2 linked regions of the Homo sapiens genome follow. The protein of the gene in region 2 interacts with the protein of the main gene of each other region in a pairwise test. Each region holds a gene or a part of one and is shown on either strand. Other genes may lie near its edges.

Evidence for each region. Proteins that work in one complex are often made in the same cells at the same time.
Region 1: the proteins of MAGEB3 (region 2) and PPP1R7 interact in binary tests that used the Homo sapiens proteins (3 or more experiments, as listed by UniProt).

What each region holds. Positions count from the first base shown.
Region 1 is NC_000002.12:241,160,456-241,167,477, forward strand, and holds part of PPP1R7 (protein phosphatase 1 regulatory subunit 7), read left to right. Parts: coding exon 1-39; intron 40-2,829; coding exon 2,830-2,946; intron 2,947-5,881; coding exon 5,882-5,986; intron 5,987-6,589; coding exon of another isoform or gene 6,590-6,613; exon of another isoform or gene 6,614-6,719; intron 6,720-7,022. UniProt on the Homo sapiens protein: Regulatory subunit of protein phosphatase 1.
Region 2 is NC_000023.11:30,226,025-30,233,676, reverse strand, and holds the start of MAGEB3 (melanoma-associated antigen B3), read right to left. Parts: upstream 3,021-7,652; 5' UTR 2,860-3,020; intron 2,161-2,859; 5' UTR 2,059-2,160; intron 1,611-2,058; exon of another isoform or gene 1,535-1,610; intron 851-1,534; 5' UTR 761-850; intron 416-760; 5' UTR 314-415; intron 1-313.

The DNA.
Region 1 (7,022 bases), on a different chromosome or scaffold from region 2:
CAACTACAGATGCTAGAGCTGGGATCTAACCGCATCCGGGTAGGTGCAGACAGCCCTGACTAGTATATTCAGGGAGAGGCAGCTAGCGGGCTGTGTGTGGACTCAGTGGGTGTATGTAGAATGCATGGTGAGTCTGCATTTCTTACAATGCTGTGATTTTTTTCATGAACAAGGAAATTACTATTTTTTTAAGAAAAAATGCTAACTGAAAGTCAGTATCAGTAAGTCCTGAGTGGTCTAGCCTTTCTTCCGCACGTAGATTTCAGTTGCTCTTCATCCAGATCATGACCCTGAATCACACTGTTCCCAGTTACATTCTGCCTGAGATGAACCAACCAACCTGAATGCCTTGCTCTTGAACTTCCTCATGGTCATCTTCTCTGGCATGCTTCTTCGAGATGAAAGTTTCCCAAGCCCAGCAAAGTGGTCACTTGGAGTGAACTGATGTACATACCGGGGCTTTAGAAAGCCTCTTGATCATGGTCATCTTCTCTGGCATACTTCTTCGAGATGAAAGTTTCCCAAGCCCAGCAAAGTGGTCACTTGGAGTGAATTGATGTACATACCGGGGCTTTAGAAAGCCTCTTGATCATGGTCATCTTCTCTGGCATGCTTCTTCGAGATGAAAGTTTCCCAAGCCCAGCAAAGTGGTCACTTGGAGTGAATTGATGTACATACCGGGGCTTTAGAAAGCCTCTTGATCATGGTCATCTTCTCTGGCATACTTCTTCGAGATGAAAGTTTCCCAAGCCCAGCAAAGTGGTCACTTGGAGTGAACTGATGTACATACCGGGGCTTTAGAAAGCCTCTTGATCATGGTCATCTTCTCTGGCATGCTTCTTCGAGATGAAAGTTTCCCAAGCCCAGCAAAGTGGTCACTTGGAGTGAACTGATGTACATACCGGGGCTTTAGAAAGCCTCTTGATCATGGTCATCTTCTCTGGCATGCTTCTTCGAGATGAAAGTTTCCCAAGCCCAGCAAAGTGGTCACTTGGAGTGAACTGATGTACATACCGGGGGCTTTAGAAAACCTCTTGATGCTGACACACTCCCAAAGGCAGTGCTGAGTTGGGCCTTCCTCCCTGGACAGCTTTATACTCCTGGACACCGTCCCCAGCAGGATTAGATCTGTTCTCCAGGATCCATTTGACCTTGAAAACGTGGGACAGAATGGAAATAAAAGAATTTTGAAAAGTGATCTGGTGTTCCACAGAAGCAGGATCAAGTCTTCACCAGCTGACTCATAACCACCGTCATGTGCTGGAGGGGAACTTGGGAGGGCGTCCCAGGAGGACTGACATTGGAGGTGGATCTGCCAGGCAGGGAGGAGGGAGGGTTCCCGTGGGCAGGAAGGAGGACTTCTCTCAGCCAGAAGAACACTTGAGCCCCGTGCCTGGCTCCTAATCAGGGTCATGGCACGGAGCCTTTGCTCCCCCGGCCTGGCTTAGTGGCTTTGGCAGCTGTGTCTAAGCACATCCGCCCCTGCCCATGTTCAGAATGCCCCTCTACTTGGCTTCTGGAAGTATTACAGCATTCTCTGTCTGTCCTGGGCCCTTGAGAGCTTGGACAGGATACAAACCAAGGGAGGGTGGTTTTGGCAACAGTCTCTTGACAGTTATTGTTAGAGATGTCATGGCCACAAATAGCAAAGCAGCACATTTAAAACTAGAGAGCAGCCCAGATGTCCGCATTTTACCAAGTGTCTCACTATGGAACTTTCTAGGGCAACAGTGGCTCATCACAAATTAATGCAGGCTACAGCATGTGAGGATGCCCCTGCCCCCGCCAAGTCCTGCAGTGGTGTGTGGATTAGCACACCATCTCCCCTCCTAGAGTCCCCACCTGGTTAGCATGCACCTTATCTGGTTATTTTGTGTCTGCTGAAATATTTAAAGAATGACTTGTTCTGAGAGAGAGTGAACTGACAGAGGAGGGAAACTGAAGTCAAATCAATAAACAGTCATTAAACATCCTGCTGTAGGCAAGTCACCATGGGGAGACCAGACAGGGCAGCGTGGTCACTGCCTCTGGAGGTTTATGGTTGAATAGAGGAGCACACGATCACAGCAAGAGTGATGTAGGAGGGTGTGGAAACTGGGCAAGAGGGGCAGAGTGCTGTGGTGTGAGGGCCCCCCAGGAATCCTAAGTGAGGGTCCCAGGATTTCAAAGACTTGAGGTCAGAGTGCCCCGTACCTCTCTTCTGTAGAGACTGAGGCTCTTGGGAGGACTTTTTTTTTTTTTTTTTGAGACGGAGTCTCGTGCTGTTGCCCAGGCTAGAGTGCAGTGGCACAATCTCGGCTCACTGCAAGCTCTGCCTCCTGGGTTCACGCCATTCTCCTGCCTCAGCCTCCGGAGTAGCTGGAACTACAGGCACCCGCCGCCACGCCCAGCTAATTTTTTTGTATTTTTAATAAAGACAGGGTTTCACCGTGTTAGCCAGGATGGTCTCTATCTGACCTTGTGATCCACCTGCCTCAGCTTCTCAAAGTGCTGGGATTTCCACGCCCGACAGGGGGACATTTTAATGTGTCAGCTCACAAATTTAGAACTGGAAGGGACTTGGGAATCTACTGGTCCTTGGGTTCTGAGACTGTTCCTCAGCACCCCAGGAAATCTGAGGGTTGGGAATGAGCTCAAGACAGTCTTGGACTCGCCACTATTGTATTCTACCTTCAAGTAGGATTTCCACTGGAAGTCTTAGCAGATACGTCACTAGCCCCACATCGCAGAGCTGAAGCCCACATAGCTCTGCCCCGGTCCAGGCACCTGCTGGCTGCCTGGGGCAGCCTGTCAACTGCAGTACTCATTGCTGTTCTGTCCTTTCCACAGGCAATCGAAAATATCGACACCTTAACCAACCTGGAGAGTTTGTTTTTGGGGAAAAACAAAATTACTAAACTTCAGAACCTGGATGCGCTCACCAACCTGACAGTCCTCAGTATGCAGGTACGGAGCTTCCTGAGCCGCCCTTCCCTGCGAGCCCTGGCAGGGCCAGCGCTGCTGGACACAATCTTAGTTTTTATCCTTCACTGCCTTCACAATTGGCACTTCGTTGCACTATTAGTAAGCAATTGAAACATTAGATGCCATAGACTTTATACACACATGTGCCAAGCAAAAACTTGATTCTCTTTTTTATTTTTTATTTATTTTTTTCACTTTTTTAGAAACAGGGTCTTTATCTGTCACTCAGGCTGCAGTGCAGTGGTGCTGTCATAGCTCACTGCAGCCTCCAACTCCTGGGCTCAAGCCAGCTTCCCACCTCAGCCTACCAAGTCGGTAGGACTACAGGCATGCACCACGACCTTCAGCTAATATTTTGTCAAGGGGGTGAGGAATGGAAGAGATGAGGTCTCACTATGTTGCCTAGGCTGGTCTTGAACTCTTGACCTCAAGTGATCTTCCTGCCTTGGCCACCCAAAATGCTGGGTTTACAAGCATGAGTCACCACTCGTGGCCTTTCTTTTTTTTTTAAGAGACAAGGTCTCACTCTGTCATCCAGGCAGGAGTGCAGTGACAAGTGCATTCATAGCTCACTATAGCCTCACACTCCTAGGCTCAAGCAATCTTCCCTCCTCAGCCTCCCAAGTAGCTGGGACTGCAGGTACACAGCACCATGCCTGGCTAATTTTTGTATTTTATGTAGAGAAGGGGTTTCCCTATGTTGCCCAGGGTGGTCTTGAACTCCTGGACTCAAGCAAACCTCCTGCCTTGGCCTCCCAAAAAATTTCTTTCTTAAGTGCCATGTTTTTGGCTTTTTCCACCCACCCACCTCCCCCTTCTGCCCCAGTAGCAGTCATAGATGGTTTTTAGCCAAAGGGGACTTCTTCAGAAGGTGGAGCTTATTCTAAATTCTAAAGTGTTTGGCTCAATGGTAAAAGCAATTCCTTCCATTGCACAGAGAATATCAACCCTGTTAGACTTCTGCATTTGGGAGTTGGTAAGCACTTGGGTGTGCCTAGGCTCCTGTTTACCTTTTGTGTTGGAAGCAAATTAGCAGAATTGGACCCTTGAAGCGAGATGGAACAGAGTGCTCTGGGGACGAGGCCCGGTATGGTTAGTTGATCCCTGATCCCTTCGACTGATACTGAGGGGCATGTGGAAACCGCTCTTAACCCTTGGTGAAGCAGAAGTTTGTCAGGCTTCTTTAAGAAAGTTCTTGGCCTGGTACAGTGGCTCATGCCTGTAACCTCAGCACTTCGGGAGATCTAGGCGGTCAGATCGCTTGAGCCCAGGAGTTCAAGACCAGCCTGGGCAACATAGTGAGAGCCCATCTCTAAAAAAATTAAAAATATAAAAAAAAGCTCTTAGGCCAGGCGTGGTGGCTCACGCCTGTAATCCCAGCCCTTTGGGAGGCCAAGGCAGGCGGTTCATTTGAGGTCAGGAGTTTGAGACCAGCCTGGCCAACATGGTGAAATCTCATCTCTACTGAAAATACAAAAATTAGCCAGGCATGGTGGCGGGCGCCTGTAATCCCAGCTACTCAAGAGGATGAGGCAGGAGAAATGCTTGAATCCAGGAGGAGGACATTGCAGTGAGCCAAGGTTGTGCCACTGCACTCCAGCCTGGGTGACAGAGCGAGAGTCCATCTCAAAAAAAAGAAAGAAAGAAATTATAATTAATTTACTTTAAAATATTCAGTAATTTTTACACTTTAAAATTATTAAATCAGGTAAACCTTCACCAAATGTATCTTTTAACAATGAGTTCTTTTTTTTGGTTTTTTTTTGAGATGGAATTTCGCTCTTATTGCCCAGGCTGGAGCACAGGGGTGCAATCTCGGCTCACTGCAACCTCAGCTTCTGGGTTCAAGCGATTCTCCTGCCTCAGTCTCCCAAGGAGCTGAGATTACAGGTGTGCACCACCACGCCCGGCTAATTTTTTGTATTTTTAGTGGAGACAGGTTTCACCATGTTGGCCAGGCTGGTCTCAAACTCCTGACCTCAGGTGATCCTCCTGCCTTGGCCTCCCAAAGTGCTGGGATTATAGGTGAGAGCCACTGCACCTGGCCTAACAATGAATTCTTTATATAAAAAACATGTAATTCCCATGCATGAATTTTAGCTCAGTACAGCAGGCTCAAAATTTTGATCCTCTTTTTCTCTCTACATGAGTCCCATTCTAGCATGTTTTTTGTTTGTTTGTTTGTTCGTTTTGAGACGGAGTCTCGCTCTGTCACCCAGGCTGGAGTGCAATGGTGCAATCTCGGCTCACTGCAAGCTCCACCTCCCAGGTTTACGCCATTCTCCTGCCTCAGCCTCCCAAGTAGCTGGGACTACAGGCACCCGCCACCACGCCCGGCTAATTTTTTTTGTATTTTTTTCGTAGAGACGGGGTTTCACCGTGTTAGCCAGGATGGTCTCGATCTCATAACCTCATGATCCTCTCGCCTCGGCCTCCCAAAGTGCTGGGATTACAGGCGTGAGCCACCGTGCCCAGCCCTTTATATATATATATTTTTTTTTGAGATGGAGTCTCGCTCTGTTGCCCAGGCTGGAGTGCAGTGGCATGATCTTGGCTCACTGCAATCTCCGCCTCCCGGGTTCACGCCGTTCTCCTGCCTCAGCCTCCCGAGTAGCTGGGACTACAGGCGCCCATCATCACACCTGGCTAATTTTTTGTATTTTTAGTAGAGATGGAGTTTCACCACGTTAGCCAGGATGGTCTCGATCTCCTGACCTCGTGATCTGCCCCACTCGGCCTCCCAAAGTGCTGGGATTACAGGCATGAGCCACCGCGCCCGGCCCCATTCTAGCATGTTTTAAGTGAAATTCTCTGTTCTTAGAATTCTTCAAGATAACACAAAACCTCGTTTCCTAAAAACCGTTTCATTTCATACCTTCTGTACTGTTCTGACAGCTGTGTGCTCTCCCTCTTGCAGAGCAACCGGCTGACCAAGATCGAGGGTCTGCAGAACCTGGTGAACCTGCGGGAGCTGTACCTTAGCCACAATGGCATCGAGGTCATCGAGGGCCTGGAGAACAATGTAAGACACCCACTGTCTGTCTGGGGCTGTGTGGGCGGTGGGCACCAGGCGGGCAGGCACCTGGCCAGCCAGCACACACTGGCCTCTCGGGCCGGTGTCAGGAAGATGCCCTGCCTCTGGAGGTTTATCAGAAAGACCTTCCCATCCTAAAAACTAAGGGACCCTTTCCTCATACTGAAAAGTGCAGGAGCTGTGTGTGCCTGTTGGCCCTCTGCCCTGAGTGTGCCTTGAAGGGCTGACGCTTTATGTGGGATTTCAGCACAGGCTTCCCTAGGCTTCCTCAATGGGGCAGCATCCATTGCACACCCACTGTGCACTGCAGGCATTTTGCAAGATTTGAAAAAAACAAACCCAACCTGCTCGTAAAGGGCCCTGTATGAGGGTGACTGGCATCCCTTTAGGCCACTGACCTGTCCATGGGTCCACTGGCCTCAGCCCCTACTTCCCAGCCCACAGAGAGCACAGGACCAGCTCTCAGTCCCAGCCCCTTCCTCTTCTTACAGTATGAGCAGCTTCCTCCTCCCCCATTCCTCCCTGCCTGCTTTCCACACCTGTCCTCACCTGTTCATGCTCCTCCCTCCCTCCCCGGCCCTTCTCACTCAGGTGCAGGACAGCCTCACGTACTGAGGGGAAGTGTGCTCACAGAGCCCCCACCCTCCTCAGCTGCCTCCAGCTCACCCTGCTCTGCCCCAGTGCGGTGTTCAAGACAAATAAAAGACTTTTTCTCATTCAATTTTACTTGTTTTTTTCTGTTTTGTTAAATTGCCAGCAAATACAACCAGATTGGTCTATAAACATAGTGTTTCAATCTCATTAAAGGCCTTTGTGCCTCAACCCCAGGGCCTAGTTGGCAGCAGTAAATTTCACCAACACCTGCATAAAATTTTGGAAAAATTCAAATTTGCCTGTGGAAAGTTTGGTCACCTTCCTTTGACTTTGCATTGAAATTAAAAGTTTATAAAACTAGCATGCAAACCAAGTGTTCACCTGTGTAGTTTAGAGTGGTAAGTCGAGACGTGCCTGCAGTGGAATGGCG
Region 2 (7,652 bases):
GGTTCTCACCTTGTTACTAAGCGGAGCAGAGTAACACCTCTACTGAGCGAAGTCCGCCAACCTCCAAAATCCTCCCCTCCCATAGTCCCTAGAGGGGAAGTCTAGGCATGTTATCGGACCATGTCCTGGGGCTTCAAAGACCTGAAACAGGGTTAGGGCTTTTGGTGGGCCCTTCTTTTGGAGAGAGGTTCCCTGGTTAGCACCGGTGGGCCTCATATTTCTTTCTTTCTTTCTTTCTTTTTTTTTTTTTTTTTTGTGACAGGGGCTCTCTCTGTCTTCCAGGCTGGAGTGTAGCCGCGCAATCTTGACTTACCACAACCTCCACCTCCCAGTCCTCGAACTCCTGTGCTTAAGCGATGAGGCTGGCTTCGTCCTCCCAAAATGTTGGGATTACAAGCGTGAGCCAGAGCCCTGCCTTAAAATTAAAAAAAAAAAAAGTTTATATCTATTTATTTATTTATTTATTTATTTTGAGATGGAGTCTCGCTCTGTCACCCAGGCGGGAGTGCAGTGGCGCGATCTTGGCTCACTGCAACCTCTGCCTCCCGGGTTCAAGGGATTCTCCTGCCTCCACCTCCCGAATAGCTGGGACTACACCTGTGCCCCACCACGCCCGGCTAATTTGAGACAGTGTCTCTCTCTGTCGCCCAGGCTGGAGCGCAGTGGCGTGACCTTGGCTCACTGCAGCCTTGACTCCTAGGGCTTAAGCGATCCTCCCACCTCAGCCTCCTGGGTAGCTGGGACTACAGGGGCAGCTCACCTCCCAGTCCGCGAACTCCTGTGCTTAAGCGATGAGGCTGGCTTCCTCCGCCCAAAATGTTGGGATTACAAGCGTGAGCCACAGCCCTGCCTTAAAATAAAAAATAAAAAAAAGTTTATATTTATTTATTTATTTACTTATTTTGAGATGGAGTCTCTCTCTGTCACCCAGGCGGGAGTGCAGTGGCGCAATCTTGGCTCACTGCAACCTCTGCCTCCCGGGTTCAAGCGATTCTCCTGCCTCCGCCTCCCGAATAGCTGGGACTACACGTGCGCCGCACCACGCCCGGCTAATTTGAGACAGTGTTTCTCTCTGTCACCCAGGCTGGAGCGCAGTGGCGTGACCTTGGCTCACTGCAGCCTTGACCCCTAGGGCTTAAGCGATCCTCCCACCTCAGCCTCCTGGGTAGCTGGGACTACAGGGGTGCTCCACTGCTGCCCCGCCATTTTTTTTTTTTTTTGTAGAGACAGGTTTTCGCCATGTTGTCCCGGCTGGTTTCGAACTCCTGGGGGGGCCCAAACAGTTCACTCGCCTCGGCCTCCCAGTGTGCTGGGATTACAGGCCTGAGACGCCGTACCGGCTTGGTCTTCATCTTGACTCTAGTTAGGGCCAAGAGACCTCTGAAGAACTGAGGCTGCCCTGTTAGAGAAAGCCTTCCCCTCCCTGAGACCCGCCAGGCTGAAATGAGAGGCAAGCCAGTTTTATAGTTCCGCCTAGGGCTTTCCAGGGTTAAAAACATGGATTGTCCCTTCAGTCCCCGCTGAGGGTTCTTACCTTTACTCCGGATCAGTTCTAAGACTCACGCTAGGCCACGAACCTGACTGAAGCTATTGCACCCGTCAGGCCAACTGCCTCACTTTCAAAGCGGAAGTGAGGCTGAGCCACACCCCGCTCGGGGTCTCCGAGGGCTGACAGCAGCGGGTGACACGCTGGGACCCCACTGTTCTGGAGTCAGTGGTCCCTAGGTCCTTATTCAGGGTTCTCACCTTGATACTAAGCGGAGCAGAGTAACACCTCTACTGAGCGAAGTCCGCCAACCTCCAAAATCCTCCCCTCCCATAGTCCCTAGAGGGGAAGTCTAGGCATGTTATCGGACCATGTCCTGGGGCTTCAAAGACCTGAAACAGGGTTAGGGCTTTTGGTGGGCCCTTCTTTTGGAGAGAGGTTCCCTGGTTAGCACCGGTGGGCCTCATATTTCTTTCTTTCTTTCTTTCTTTTTTTTTTTTTTTTTTTTTTTTTTGTGACAGGGGCTCTCTCTGTCTTCCAGGCTGGAGTGTAGCCGCGCAATCTTGACTTACCACAACCTCCACCTCCCAGTCCTCGAACTCCTGTGCTTAAGCGATGAGGCTGGCTTCGTCCTCCCAAAATGTTGGGATTACAAGCGTGAGCCAGAGCCCTGCCTTAAAATTAAAAAAAAAAAGTTTATATTTATTTATTTATTTATTTTGAGATGGAGTCTCGCTCTGTCACCCAGGCGGGAGTGCAGTGGCGCTATCTTGGCTCACTGCAACCTCTGCCTCCCGGGTTCAAGCGATTCTCCTGCCTCCGCCTCCCGAATAGCTGGGACTACACGTGCGCCGCACCACGCCCGGCTAATTTGAGACAGTGTTTCTCTCTGTCACCCAGGCTGGAGCGCAGTGGCGTGACCTTGGCTCACTGCAGCCTTGACCCCTAGGGCTTAAGCGATCCTCCCACCTCAGCCTCCTGGGTAGCTGGGACTACAGGGGTGCTCCACTGCTGCCCCGCCATTTTTTTTTTTTTTGTAGAGACAGGTTTTCGCCATGTTGTCCCGGCTGGTTTCGAACTCCTGGGGGGGCCCAAACAGTTCACTCGCCTCGGCCTCCCAGTGTGCTGGGATTACAGGCCTGAGATGCCGCACCGGCTTGGTCTTCATCTTGACTCTAGTTAGGGCCAAGAGACCTCTGAAGAACTGAGGCTGCCCTGTTAGACAAAGCCTTCCCCTCCCTGAGATCCGCCAGGCTGAAATGAGAGGCAAGCCAGTTTTATAGCTCTGCCTAGGGCTTTCCAGGGTTAAAAATATGGATTGGGCTCCGAGAAGTCCCCTTATTTGTGGGTTTAGTTTTCCCTTTTTTACTCACTCAAGAACCTCACTTCGCTGCTGGCCAGTCCTGGGACTCCACATTCCATGCCATGAATCCTGCTCAGATCAAGGTCCTCCGAGATCTAGGCTGAAGTTTTGATGAGCCACATTAGGCCAGGGATGTTTGGGTCCTGTGAGGGCAGACAGCGGAGTCGGGTTTCTATGGGACATCACTGTTCTGGCTCCTCCTGTTCTTCATTCAAGGTCCTCCCTGATATCTGCCAGACCCTGGATCCTCCCTCTAGTTAACTGAGGTCACCTTAGGTCAAAACTCTCACTTCACTGAGAACTCTGAAGGGTAAAAGAGAGGATGCTCAGTCTGACTGCACTGCCTGGGGCATTCTAGGCTGAGAAGAGGTTTGGGTAGATTGCCCCGTTATCTTTTGGTGTGGTTGTCTTTCCAGTATTTATTTATGGGTGTCCTCCTTATTTTCTCTTGCCTCTCTGAATAAAGGCTTCCTGGGAAATGCCACATCCCTGCAAACTCTTGGGCAGCGTTCCTACTGCAAACCTTGCAAGTCTGTGCCCCAGGGCTAATGTGAGGTAAAGAAATTATAACACAAAGCAGGGAGTCCAAGGTAGCTGGTGGGTTGTCAGAGAAAAATGATGCTGATTTACTCTTTTCAATAGCCAGCACTAGCCTCTTATGTGACTTCTGTTTTAATTGATTTACTTCTTAAGGGGAAGGAGCTGTTCAAGATGATTGTGTGGTCCCTGATTTTGAGGTTATCTGACTGTGCATATGTAGATGATCATATTGTCACTGAATAATATCTCTTTCTCCTCTTTATTTGTAGCTTTCATTTATTTTGATATTCTTTATTGCTTTGGCTATGTATTCCAATCCAATTCTTTGGGCACAGAATCCTTCTTTTTAACCCCTGAGATATATTTGGAAGTATTGAGAAGAAAAGTGAATTAAAGAACACAAAGTCTGCTCCAGGCAGAGAGGAACAGAATGAAGAGTGTGGGCTCTAGAAGAATTCACAACAGGAGTCTAGTCCCAGCCCTGTCACTTACTCACCCTGTGAACTTGAGCATATTACCAAACTCCAAACAAAGAAATTATAATCAAACAAAATGCTGCTTAGCAAGGAAAATTATATAATTTATAAAGTGTTTGTGGAAGAGCCTTCTCCAATTGGATACAACTCAAGTCTCAAAATTTTTGTCAATGACCAATATTTTTTTCTAACTCCTAGGCACCCTTCTATGTTAACCACTCCTGTTTTGATTTTTATTATTTATTTATTTTTTTTTTTTGAGATGGAGTCTCACTCTGTCACCCAGGCTGGAGTGCAGAGGCACTATCTCGGCTCATTGCAACCTGTGCCTCAGGGCTCAAGTGATTCTCGTGCCTCAGCCTCCCTAGTAGCTGGGATTACAGATGTCCACCACCACGCCCAACTAATTTTTGTATTTTTGGTAGAGACGGGGTTTCACCACGTTGGCCAGACTAATCTTGAACTCCTGATCTCAAGAGATCCACCTGCCTCGCCTCCCAAAGTGCTGGGATTACAGGCATGAACCACCATGCCTGGCTGCACCCCTGTTGAAAGTCCTTTTAATAGAGCGGGCTCTTGATTCTCCAACCCAGGACAAAGAGTGCCAGCACGGTGGCTTCTGGGCATCTTACCTCCCCTGAAGCTGTCATCTCCCTTATTTCTCAGAAACTCACTAGAGATGATGTACATAGAACACCTAGGTTGTGCACTGTATTAGACTGTGCTAGGATAGGGACATAGAACACTTTTCACTTTTGTCCTAGGTAGGGGTTCTCTCTGGTTTTCCCACAACAGGAAAGTAAATGTTAGGGATAGTTTCCCATTCCGGGCTTAGTCTCTCAACACTGAAATGCACCAACTGTATAAAGCACCTAGTTTGTGCACTGTGACTATGTTCTGCTGCACTGGGACAAGAGCACAGGGCACATTCCATTCCTGCCCCAGGTGCAGATTCTCTCTGGTTTATCCGTGAGCACAAAATAACTGTTAAGAACTACTTCCCATTCCAGGCTTTGTCTCACACCTCTGAGAGGCACCATCTGAGGGCCTGGCCCCTCCCACAGTCTCATCCAGCCCACCATGTAGTTTCCCTTAAAATTACCTCCCAATGGGGGACTTGAGGTTTCCTAACACTCCAAACTGCCTTGCCTCAGGGCATTTACACTTGATTGCTCTCATCTCAAACCTCCTCTTTTTCTCATTCCTCCTTTGTACTTGTTCTTTAAGTTTTAGAGAGCACCTCATCATCTTTTTTTTTTTTATGACAGCTGCTCCCAGACTCTAAAATTAAATGGGCAAGAAATTGATTTGTTTTGGGGAAAACATTCCCAGTACTAACATGAAGACTTCCAAAGAGCTGATGCTCAATTAATGATTAAGGAATAAACAAGAGAGTGAGTATGAAGTCCAATAAATTAGGATTTAATCTCTCCTACATTCTTTAATAATCTAAGCAAATCCAGATATGTAACTCTTAATTTTATAAGAAGAAAGACTAAAAGGAATTAGGCAAACCAAGAATAGACAAACTTTTTTAAAAAAATTTTTTGATCTCAACAATTTTTAATACAGTATTCAATCACATTTCCAACATAATCAGTACTCAAGAAAATTCACTACTTGTATGACATTTCTCAAAGAAGACATAAAAATGTCCAATAGCTATACAAAGATGTGCTCAACATCACTAACCATCAGGGAAATGCAAATCAAAACCACAGCGAGATATCACCTCACACAAGTTAGGAAGGCTATTATAAAAAAATAAAACAAAAACAACCAAACAAAAACCCACTGGAGATGAATGTTGGCAAGAGTGTAGAGAAAATGGAACGCTTCTACACTATTGGTGGAAATGCAAATTGGTACAGCCATTCTAGAATACAGTATGAGCTTTCTCAAAAAATTGAAAATGGACTACCATATGACCCAGCAATCCCTTGTCTGGGCATAAGGAAACGAAATCATCACCTCCTGTAGATATTTGTGCCCCCATGTTCACTGCAGTATTATTCTCAATGACCAAGATGCGGCAACAACAAAATTGTTTACCAATGGATGAATGGATAAAGGAATTGTGGTATATATGTACAATGAAACAGAAAACCAAATACTGCATGTTCTTTGTGGGAGTTAAACATTGAGTACACATGGACACAAAGAAGGGAACAACAGACACTGGGGCCTACTTAAGGGCGGAAGGTGGGAGTAGGGTGAGGATGGAAAAACTGCCTATTGTGTACTATGCTTATTACCTGGGTGATGAAATAATCTGTACGCCAGACCCCCATGACATGCAATTGCCTATATAACAACCTGCACATGTACCCCTGAAACTAAGATAAAATTTAAAAAAATGTTATTTAGCCTTGAAAAAGAAAGAGATTCTGCCATTGCAACAACACAGATGAACTTGGGGGACGTTATGCTGAATGAAATAAACCAGACACAGAAAGAAAAATGCTGCATGCTATTAATATCCCTTATATGTAAAATCGAAAAAGAAAAAAATGTTAAATACATAGAAAAAGAGAATAAAACAGTAGTTACCAGAGGCAGGGTGGGGAGGGGATGCAGAGATGCATGTCAAACAGTACAAAGTTGCAGTTTTATAAGACGAATAAATCTAGAGATCTAAAGTACAGTATGAGGACTACAGTTAGTAATATTGTATTGCATACTGCAAATTTTCTAAGAGTAGATTTTAGCTGCTCTTACCACAAAACAAGGTAACTATATGATATAATGGATATATTAAATTGCTTACCTGTAGTAAGCATTTCACCATGTACTGTAATGCATTGCTTAACAATGAAGATACTTTCTGAGAAACGCGTTGTTAGGCAATTTCATTGTTGTGCAAATATAATAGAGTATACTTACATAAACCTAGGTGGTATATAGCCTACTACACACGTAGGCTATTTGGTGTAGCCTATTGCTCCTAGGCCACAAACCTGTGCAGCATGTGACTGCACTGAAAACTATAGGCAAATGTAACACGGTGCTAAGTATTTGTGTACCTAAACACAGAAAAGGTACAGTAAAAAATATGGTACAAAAGATTGTTAAAAATCATACACCTGTGTGGAGTATTTACCATTAATGTAGCTTGCAGAACTGGAAGTTGCTTTGGGTGAGCCAGTGATTGAATAGTGAGTGAATGTGAGGGCCTGGGACATTACTGTACACTATTATAGACTTAATAAACATTGTACAGTTAGACTACACTAAATTCTCAAGCATAGTTTTCTTTCTTTAACAATAAATTAACCTTAGCTTACTGTAACTTTTTTTGCTTTATAAACTTCTTAATTTTTTTTAGCTTTTTGACTCTTTTGTAGTAACACTTAGCTTAAAACATAAGCACATTGTACAGCTGTACAAAAATATTTTCTTTCTTTATATTCTTATTTTATAAGCTTTTTTCTATTTTTACTTTTTAAATTTTTAAACGTTTTTGTTAAAAATGAAGACAAAAGCACCCACATTAGCCTAGGCCTACACAAGGTCAGGATCATCAATATCACTGTCTTCTACCTCCACATCTTGTCCCACTGGAAGGTCTTCAGGGACAATAATACGCATGGAGCTGTCATCTCTTATGATAACACCACCTTCTTCTGGAATACAACCTGAAGGACCTGCCTGAGACTGTTTTTACAGTTAACATTTTTTTTTTTAGTAGAAGGAGTGCACTCTAAAATAATAATAAAAGTACCACCTGTAATCCCAGCACTTTGGGAGGCTGAGGCGGGTGGATCACTTGAGGTCAGGAGTTCAAGAC